2 linked regions of the Homo sapiens genome follow. The protein of the gene in region 2 purifies or fractionates together with the protein of the main gene of each other region. This does not show direct contact. Each region holds a gene or a part of one and is shown on either strand. Other genes may lie near its edges.

Region 1 (5,019 bases), on a different chromosome or scaffold from region 2:
CTGGAACAGACTGAATGATGAACAAGCTCCGAAGAGACTGCCTGCTGCCTTGTCAGGTTAGTGTGTGAAATGAGTGAGGGTAGGTTAATCTTCCACTTCTGTTCAGATGAGTAACTGCATAGGGGCTCAGCTTATCTGCGTGCTATTGGAACTTGAGAGGTCCTTCAGTTTTTGTGTCAGCATTCTTGAGTGGCGATTACTTTGTGCTCCAGTGAACTTGGTTAAGTATTGAATTGTTTTTCCTGTTATCTGCTATTTACATAGTGTCATGAATGACTGTATATATCTGCAGTTTTGAGGATCTAAATATGGAGAACATATCAATAGAAACAAAAGGTTGAACTTTTTTTCCTAGTGGTTGTACTACCTCTATTGATACTATTAGTCTTTCAGATTATTTACTTTTTGCTGAAATACCTGTTAATTAAAAACAGTTTAGTCTTGAGTATTTATTATTTCACAGTAATTAATCTTCTTGGTCAGCTATGGTGTCTTCGTCTTTCATTATTACACTTAGAAAATGGTAATACTACAGAAATAAATTAGAAGGCTTTTAATACTTTCCTTATGAGGCATCAGAGTTAAAATTATTATTATTTTTTTGAGACGGAGTTTCGCTTTTGTCACCTAGGCTGGAGTGCAATGAATGGCACGATCTCGGCTCACTGCAACCTCCGCCTCCTGGGTTCAAGCAATTCTCCTGCCTCAGCCTCCTGAGTAGCTGGGATTACAGGCGCCCGCCACCATGCCCAGCTACTTTTTGTATTTTTAGTAGAGCCAGGGCTTTACCATGTTGGCCAGGCTGGCCTCAAACCCCTGACCTCAGGTGATCCACTCGCTTCGGCCTCCCAAAGTGTCAGGATTACAGGCGTGAGCCACCGCACCCGACCTAAAATTATTTTTAAATTAATTTTCTTCCTTTTTTTTTTTTTTTTTTTTTGAGAGACAGAGTCTTGGCAGTGTCGCCCAGGCTGGAGTGCAGTGGTGCAATCTCAGCTCACTGCAACCTCTGCCTCCCAGGTTCAAGCGATTCTCCTTACCTTAGCCTCCCAAGTAGCTGGAATTATAGGTGCCTGCCACCATGCCTGGCTAATTTTTTTGTATTTTTAGTAAAGACGGGGTTTCATTATGTTGGCCAGGCTGGTCTCAAACTCCTGACCTCATGATCCACCTGCCTTGGCCTCCCAAAGTGCTGGAATTACAGGTGTGAGCCACCATGCCTGGCCATGAATTTTCAGTACTTGTCTTTTGTGAGATATCTTCATCCGCAAAAAGCTTCAGGTCTTTTTTTTTTTTTTTTTGAGATGGAGTCTTGCTTTTGTTGCCCAGGCTGGAGTGCAATGGGGCGATCTCAGCTCACTGTAACCTCTGCCTCTTGGGTTCAAGTGATTCTCCTGCCTCAGCCTCCCAAGTAGCTGGGACTATAGGTGTGCGCTACCACGCCTGACTAATTTTGTATTTTTACTGGAGATGGGGGTTCACCATGTTGGTCAGGCTGGTCTCGAACTCCTGACCTCAAGTGATCCACCCGCCTTGGCCTCCCAAAGAGCTGGGATTACAGGTGTGAGCCACTGTGCCGGGCTAGCTTCAGCTCTTAATAAAATGACTTTCCATCCTCCCTTTTGCACTCTGGCTAAGACTTAAAAGAATATCTCCAGCTATTTTTTTACTCATCTGGTTTAAGCTGGACTTTTTAGCTTTGTGTTTTTTGTAGTTAAAAAAAAAATCTATCTACATTTTGCTTTTAATTGTTCTCAGGTCTCCTGGCCCCTGGTTCTTTGATTGTCTGAGTCCACACTGCCTTTTAACTGATACAGTCCACTGCTAAGTCAGCAAGTTAGCCTTGAGAATCCCAGAGACTTTAATGTGGCAATATTGTATATTTTTAGGGTTTACAGTGAAACTTGGGCTGACTACTTGCTGATTGGTTAAAGTAATAAATAAGTAAATTGTTAAAGTAATAAATGTTAAACTAATAAATAAATCAAAAAAATTGTTTTTTTTCGAGACAGAGTCTCACTCTGTCGCCCAGGCTGGAGTACACTGGTGGGATCTCGGCTCACTGCAACCTCTGCCTCCTGGGTTCAAGCGATTCTCTTGCCTCAGCCTCCCTAGTAGCTTGGGACTTTGCCATGTTGGTCAGACTGGTCTCGAATTCCTGACCTCAGGTGATCCACCCGCCTTGGCCTCCCAAAGTGCTGGGATTACAGGCGTGAACCACTACGCCCGGCCAGGTTCTTTGTTTCTTGAGTGTTCGCTTGTTTTGCATGATTTGTCTCCCACGGGTTCATAGGGATGATCAGAGGACCAATTGAGGCAGTTGGCTGGTCCTTGAAAAACTGGGGTTTGGGTTAGTATAGGTCATCATGACCAAGGAGAGTATGAAAACACTCAGTCAAGGCCAAAGTGAGCAGTAGAAGGGAGGGGTGGTCCTTTTGAGACTTTATCAAGCTTGTGTCCTGGAACCCCTTCATTTCCTTGGTAGGGTAGAACTTTATTATTTAATGTTGAATAAATTGATAATAAATAAATTGTTAAATGTTGGGTTATTATCCTAAGACAATTGATTTTCTTTTTGGCATTTCATTTCAAAATATACATTTTAAAATTCATTTTAAATTATGATACATTATAGTTTGATTTTTAAAAACTTACTATATCATGAAACATTTACATCTTATAGATTTTATAATTTAACTTTATATATTGAAAGGCTGCAAAAATAATTTCATCAAGTCATGCTACAATTTACCTAAGTCTTTTTATGTGAAGTATTTATACTGCTGTCTGGGTGGTTTTCAGTTAACACTTTAATCTACATCATTGTAGATACTGTTGCATTTTTTCTAATGATATCTTAAGGATAAATTTTGGAGTGTGTTATTATGTTAAGGGGTATCAGTGTTTTTATGGCTCCTCACATATATTGTCCTACTGTTTTCAAGGGTGTTATACCAGTTTGTGCTCCTAACAGATATATGGATATACCTGTTTTACCATAAGTAGTAGAGAAAACCATTTTTCTTCAGAAGTTTTTGTGAATTTAATAGTGTAAAATGGCACTTTCATTTCTTTGTTATATAATGTTGAATTTAACTATTTGAGCCTCTTTATGGTGAACTGTTTGTTGATATCAGTTGCTATATTATGCAATTAACTATTGTAGGCTTTGAATGGTAAGGCTGGTATAATATGGTCAGTAAAAATTGTTCACAAGAGTGTGTGGTCGAGGCTGGGTGCAGTGGCTCACGCCTGTAATCCCAGCACTTTGGGAGGCCAAGGCGGGCGGATCAGGAGGTCAGGAGATCGAGACCATCCTGGCTAACACGATGAAACCCCGTCTCTTCTAAAAATACAAAAAATTAGCCGGGCGTGGTGGCAGGTGCCTGTAGTCCCAGCTACTCGGGAGTCTGAGGCAGGAGAATGGTGTGAACCCGGGAGGTGGAGCTTGCAGTGAGCCGAGATAGAGATAGCACCACTGCGTACAGCCTGGGCAAAAGAGGGAGACTCCGTCTCAAAAAAAAAAAAAAAAAAAAAAAAGAGTGTGTGGTCAAAATGGTAAATGATCTTGGGAAGAGTGTTTGAAGGGGAACAGATGGATTATTCCAGGATTCAGTTCAGCAAGTATTTATTGGGCATCTGCTGTGAGCCCCTTTGTATCACTGCTCCTCTGAGTGGTTCTCAAGTTCTTGTGATGGCATGTGCTGGGTTGAAGCAGGACACTGCTTGAGGCTTGACCATTTGTGGGTTCTGGCTTCTGTTGTCTCTCTCTTTTTTTTTTTTTTGTGAGGGAGTCTCGCTCTGTTGCCCAGGCTGGAGTACAGTGACACGATCTCGACTCACTGCAGCCTCCGCCTCCCTGGTTCAAGTGATTTTCCTGCCTCAGCCTCCTGAGTATCTGGGATTACAGGTGCGCACTACCATGCCCTGCTAATTTTTGTATTTTTAGTAGAGACGGGGTTTCACCATGTTGTTCAGGCTGGTCTTGAACTTCTGACCTCGTGATCCACCCGCCTTGGCCTCCCAAAGTGCTGGGATTACAGGTGTGAGCCACCGCGCCCGGCCTTCTGTTGTCTCTTTGTGGCTGCTTGGATTGCTGAGAAGACCACCACTGTCTAGGCCATCTTTAACTCATTCAGGGCATACCAGTGTGCCATGGCACACCCTTTGAGAAGCTCTGTTCTGAGGGATCCAAACATGAAGGAAACATTGTTCCGTTGACAAGGAACTAATTATCTGTAGAGAGAATGGGGCACCCCAAAATGAAAGGACTAATAGGAATTTCATAGGTGCCATTGAAGGGGGCCATACAAGGTACTTCGGGATTAAGTGGAGGGAGCGATACTGCCTTCTTGGGGATATCAGGGAACACTTCCACTGAAGAGGTGGCATTTAAATCACACCACCAGGAAGCCGAGAAGCAAAGGGAAGAGGGCATTCTGGAGGGAAGTCTGGGGGTTATGTCAGAAATGTGGGTGTCAGGAAATTGCATATCCAAGTTTCCTGGGTCCTAGGATACATAAAGGAATATAATGGAAGGTAAGACTGCCAATAGGTCAGGACTGGGTTTTGGGGAGTTTTTTTTTTAATATTTAACTTTTTGTTATTTTTATTTTTTATAAAGTTAGGGGTCTTGCTATGTTCCCCAGGCTGTCTTGAACTCCTGGCCTGAAGCACTTGGCCTCCCAAAGTGCTGGGATTACAGGCCTGAGCCACCACGCTTGGCCTTGGAATTTCTTGAATGTTAGAGTAAGGATGAGTATGATGGATTGTAGGGAAGAGAACTGAGAGACAGGGCCTTTAGTTGGGTTCATAGTAGTCTAAGTGAGGGCGATGAGAACCTGAATTGAGTTGGTGGCCATGGAAAGGATTCAAGAGTTATCTTGGAGGTTGAATGGAGAGATGTGGTGACTAATTAGATGGGGTAGGGTGGGAACAATTAATTCTGTATCTCTGTGTTTTTTTTTTTCTTTTTTCTTTCTTTTTTTTTTTTTTTTGGAGTACAGTGGCTCCATCTCG
Region 2 (5,019 bases):
TAGCTTCCTGTTGTGAATAGAAGAGTCATCCTGCCTGTCATTAAGGCCTTGGCTGCCTGGTTCTGTTCTTTCTTCCCTGTCTTTCCTTCTAAGAATAGTTGTGTTGAGACCTGTTCTGGAGATAATGTTTAAATGTGAGGAGGCTTAGCTGGGCTACAGGGATAGCAACTTTTTTTTTTTTTTTTTTTTTTTTGAGACGGAGTTTCACTCTTGTCCTCCAGGCTGGAGTGCAGTGACGCGATCTCGGCTCACTGTGACCTCTGCCTCCCAGGTTCAAGTGATTCTCCTGCCTCAGCCTCCCGAGTAGCTGGGATTACAGTTGCCCGCTACCACACCTGGCTAATTTTTGTATTTTTCTAGAGACGGGGTTTTACCATGTTGGCCAGTCTAGTCTAGAACTCCTGACCTCAGGTGATCCGCCCGCCACAGGCTCCTAAAGTGCTGGGATTATAGGCGTGAGCCACCACACCTGGCCTGGAATAGCATTTGCTTTAGAATATTCTCTGTCTCTCTCTCTCTCTCTGGCCTGGAATAGCATTTGCTTTAGAATATTCTCTCTCTCTTTTTTTATTTTTTATTTTTATTTTTTTTTTTGTCCATAGTCCCTAAGCCCTTTCTGGGCTGAAACCTAGACCACCGGGCTTTCCCAAGCCCACTCTGGGTGTTCCTGGGCCTCCGTCCTTTTGAGGAAACAGTGGGTACCTTGCAAATGGGAGCTCTTGCAATCAATATCGCAGAACCTTGGGATCTTTCCTCTGTCTCAGTTCTAGTTGCTCATTTTCTGTGAGCATTTGCATTACAACGCTTCTTATTTATTCACTTGTCCATTTAACAAATATTTACTGAATTTCTTTTGTGCTAAGTGCTAGGAATATAGTGATGAGCAAGACAGACAAGATCCCTTCCTTATGAATCTTACATTCTTGAGGGAGGAAAACAATAAGTGATGCAAATAAACTAAGATAATTTCAGATAATGATATTTTCTATAAAGAAACCACAAAGTATTAAGCCCTTAATCAGCTTAAGTATTAGTACTTGAGTATTAATCCATTCCAAATTGAACCTAATGCCTGTTGCCCTAAAGCAGTGGTTCTTAAAATGTGGATTCCTGAATATAGTTGTCAGATAAAATATGGGACATCCGGTTAAATTTAAATTTCAGATAAACAGTGTTTTTAGTATGTGTACATGCCATGTAATATTTGGGGCACATTTATACTAAAAAAAGTATTTATTGTATATCTGAAATTCAAATTTAACTGGGCATCCTGTATTTTTATTTGCTAAGTCTGGCAACTTTATCCCTGAGGCCCTTTTAGGAGTTGCCTGAGTTCAAAAATATTTTCTGATAATACTAAGTGATTAATTGCCATTTTTCACTGTGTTGACATTTGCACTGTTGGTGCAGCAGCATTGAGGAGTAGAACTACTTGTATCTTAGCAAGAATCAAGGCAGAGGCAATAAATTACTAGTAGATGTCACAATAAAAAAATGTTTAATGCCATTTGAACTTAAGAACTTCCTTTATGAAGAGATAAAAATTATTAATTTTGTTAACCCTTGACCCTGAGTACGCACCTTTTTAGTATTCTGTGTGACAAAATGGGAAGCACACAAAAAGTGTGTCTGCCCCATGCCCAAGTGTGATGAACAATCTTGTGTAATTGTTCAAGTTGGACTGAGCTAGCCACTTTTTTCAAAGACAATATTTATTTGAAAGGAATGACAACTATGGTTATTTAGAAGAAAACAGTTGATAGTGTTTATTGCCAATGAAAAAAATTAAAACTTTCAAGCAAAAATTGAAATTACGGAAAACTTTGTCATCGTGAGCATGATGGCTTCTCAGTACTTAAAATCTCTTCTGATTAAATGGATGGCAACATTCACAAATGTGAGGGCCACACGCAGCAGCTCATGCCTGTCATCCCAGTGCTTTGGGAGGCTGCGGTGGGAGAATGGCTTGAAGCCAGGGGTTTGAGACCACCTGGACAATATAGCAAGACCTTGTCTCTACAAAAAATACAAAAATTAGCCTGAGTATGATGGCATATGCCAAGACTCTTAGCTACTCTGGAGGCTGAGGTGGGGGGATCACTTGAGTTCAAGAGTTCAAAGTTATGGTGAGCTCTGATGGTGCCACCACACTCCAGCCTGGGTGACAGAGCGAGACCCTGTCTCTTTAAAAAATTTTTTTGGCTGTGCACGGTGGCTCACACCTGTAATCCCAGCACTTTGGGAGGCCGAGGTGGGTGGATCATGAGGTCAGGAGATGGAGACCATCCTGGCTAACACGATGAAACCCCATCTCTACTAAAAAATACAAAAAATTAGCCAGACATGGTGGTATGCGCCCGTAGTCCTAGCTACTTGGGAGGCTGAGGCAGGAGAATGGCATGAACCTGGGAGGCGGAGCTTGCAGTGAGCCAAGATTGTGCCACTGCACTCCAGCCTGGGTGACAGAGTGAGACTCTGTCTCAAAAAAAAAAAAAAAAATTTTTTTGATGTTGTATAATAACGTGCCAATGTTTAGAAGTTCTGCATAACTCAGTGAACTGGCATTTTTCAAATGACTTATATGTGATATTACAAAATTATGCATGGCTGAAAGTCCATTCTACATGCATGATAAACCAGTGAATGTTAATATAATGCCACAAAAAGTTCATTAGTATGGCTTGAGTCTATGTTATAGTTAACCTTTAAAAAACTACCACTTGTTAAGTTTTGGTGTAGTATCAAAGAAAAATGTCCACAGTTATTTGAAAAAGCCATTTAAGTCTTCCTTTTCCAATACGTGTCTGTGTGAATGCCCATTTTCTTCATACACTTCAGTCAGAACAACATATTGCAACAGAATGAATGCAGAAGCATATGTAAGAATCCAGCAGTCTTCTATTAAGCCAAACATTAAGAGATGTATAAACATAAAGCAAGGCTATTCATCTTACTAAATTTTCATTTTTTGTTTTGGAAAATAGCTTTTTCATTTATGTAGATAAGTAATTGTTTTCTTACTTTTAAATGAATTAATACTAAGTTTCTCAGTTTTCATTTCAAATGTGGTAATTATCAATGTAAGTAACCCTTGTAAACAAACATTCTTTGGGGTCCTTAATGATTTTTAAGAATGTAAAGGAGTACTGAGACCAAAAGTTTGAGTACTTCTGTCCTTAGGCATCCATTGTATTAATAAATTAACTTTTTCCATGCAGCTATAATAGAATGATACTACTTTTGTCAATTTTGGCTTTTGTTGCCATTGCTTTTGGTGTTTTAGACATGAAGTCCTTGCCCATACATATGTAACAAACCTGCACATTGTGCACATGTACCCTAAAACTTAAAGTATAATAAAAAATAAAAATAAAAAATTAAAAAAAGAATGATACTACTTTTGCCCCATTTTGCAAGACTTGAGAAAATTATCACTCAAATCATTTTCTGTGTTCTGTGGTTTGGATGAGGAATTCTGGTTGAGCACAGCTGGAAGGAATAGGCAATTAGGGGAACAATATTTCTTTAGATAGAGTGGTTATCTATTCCTGGGAGACAGTATTGGAAATGAGTCCTGAATAAAGAGAGGGTATCAGTTATGGGAAGATTTGGGGAAAACATTCCTGGCAGTAGGACTAGCTATTGCAAAGGCCCTGAGGTAAGAACAAGGTTGGCAGTGTTTACAGACTAGTGGGGCCTGAATTACTGGAGGAGAGTAAACAAGGGAAAGTAATATGACAGTAAGGCCAGAGAGATAGCCAGGGGCCAGATCATGTTGGGCCTAATTGCACTGGGCAGGCAGCCATGAAGAACTTTAAGCAAAAGAGGGACGTGATCTGATTAGAAAAAGCTAACTCAGCATGCTGTGTGAGGGGGGAGAAAGGTCTGTTGGGAGCCGTGGCAAAAGTAGAGATAGGGAGACAAGTTAGAAGACATTGCTGCTTGTGACTAGAGTTCATAGCAGTGAAGACAGAATTGGTCATATTTGGGTTCTCTGTTGGAGCTTGAACTGGCAGGATGCTGATTAACTAGATATAGGGAAAGAGAAATCCAAGGTGATTCCTAGGGTTTTTTGGCCTGAGAGGTCAGTAAAGATGGGGAAGACAAGTCATTAGAAGGAATCCAGGGAAACATTTAGTCTTTCCTTTACTCTGAAGCAGGTGTCCTTGGAGTTAATAATAACTGGATTACAAGGAATTCTTTGTAGAAAATATCTTGAACATTTTTTGCCTTTCTTAGTAAGTTTGCCCAATTATAAAAGTTACAGCTTTTGGGCCAGATGTGGTGGCTCATGCTTGTAATCCTAGCACTTTGGGAGGCTGAGGCAGGTGGATCACTTGAGCCCAAGAATTTGAGACCAACCTGGGCAACTTGGCGAAACCCTGTCTCTACCAGGGTGTGGTGGCACATTCCTATAGTCCCAGCTACTCAGGAGGTTGAGATGGGAGGATCACTGGAGCCTAGGAAGTCAAGGCGGCAGTGAGCCACTGCACTCCAGCCTGGGTGACAGGAATGAGACTGTGTCTCAAAAATAAAAAACAAGTTACAGCTTTTGCTTTAGAAAACTTGGAAAGTACAGAAATATATAAATAAAATAAAAATAACCTGATATCACAGAGGTAACTACTACATTTTAGTATATTTCTTTCGAAACATATACACACACAAACATATTTCTTGTTTATGTATACAATTGACCCTTGAACAACATAAAGTTTAGCGGCACTGATCCTCTGTGCAGTCAAAAATCCACGTATAAGCTTTGACTCCCCAAAAGCTTAACTACTAATAACGTACTGTAAGAGAAAAGAAAATGTTAAGAAAATCATAACGGATCAGGCGCGGTGGCTCACGCCTGTAATCTCGGCACTTTGGGAGGCTGAGGCGGGTGGATCACAAGGTCAGGAGTTCGAGACCAACCTGGCCAATGTGGTGAAACCCCATCTCTACTAAAAATACAAAAAAAATTAGCCGGGCTTGGTGGTGCATGCCTGTAATCCCAACTACTGTGGAGGCTGA

The links.
Region 1: the proteins of NUP42 (region 2) and HELZ purify together in Homo sapiens (affinity purification with mass spectrometry; one large-scale study listed by BioGRID and IntAct). This does not show direct contact.

The regions. Positions count from the first base shown.
Region 1 is NC_000017.11:67,234,271-67,239,289, reverse strand, and holds part of HELZ (probable helicase with zinc finger domain), read left to right. Parts: intron 1-5,019. UniProt on the Homo sapiens protein: May act as a helicase that plays a role in RNA metabolism in multiple tissues and organs within the developing embryo.
Region 2 is NC_000007.14:23,187,431-23,192,449, forward strand, and holds part of NUP42 (nucleoporin NUP42), read left to right. Parts: intron 1-5,019.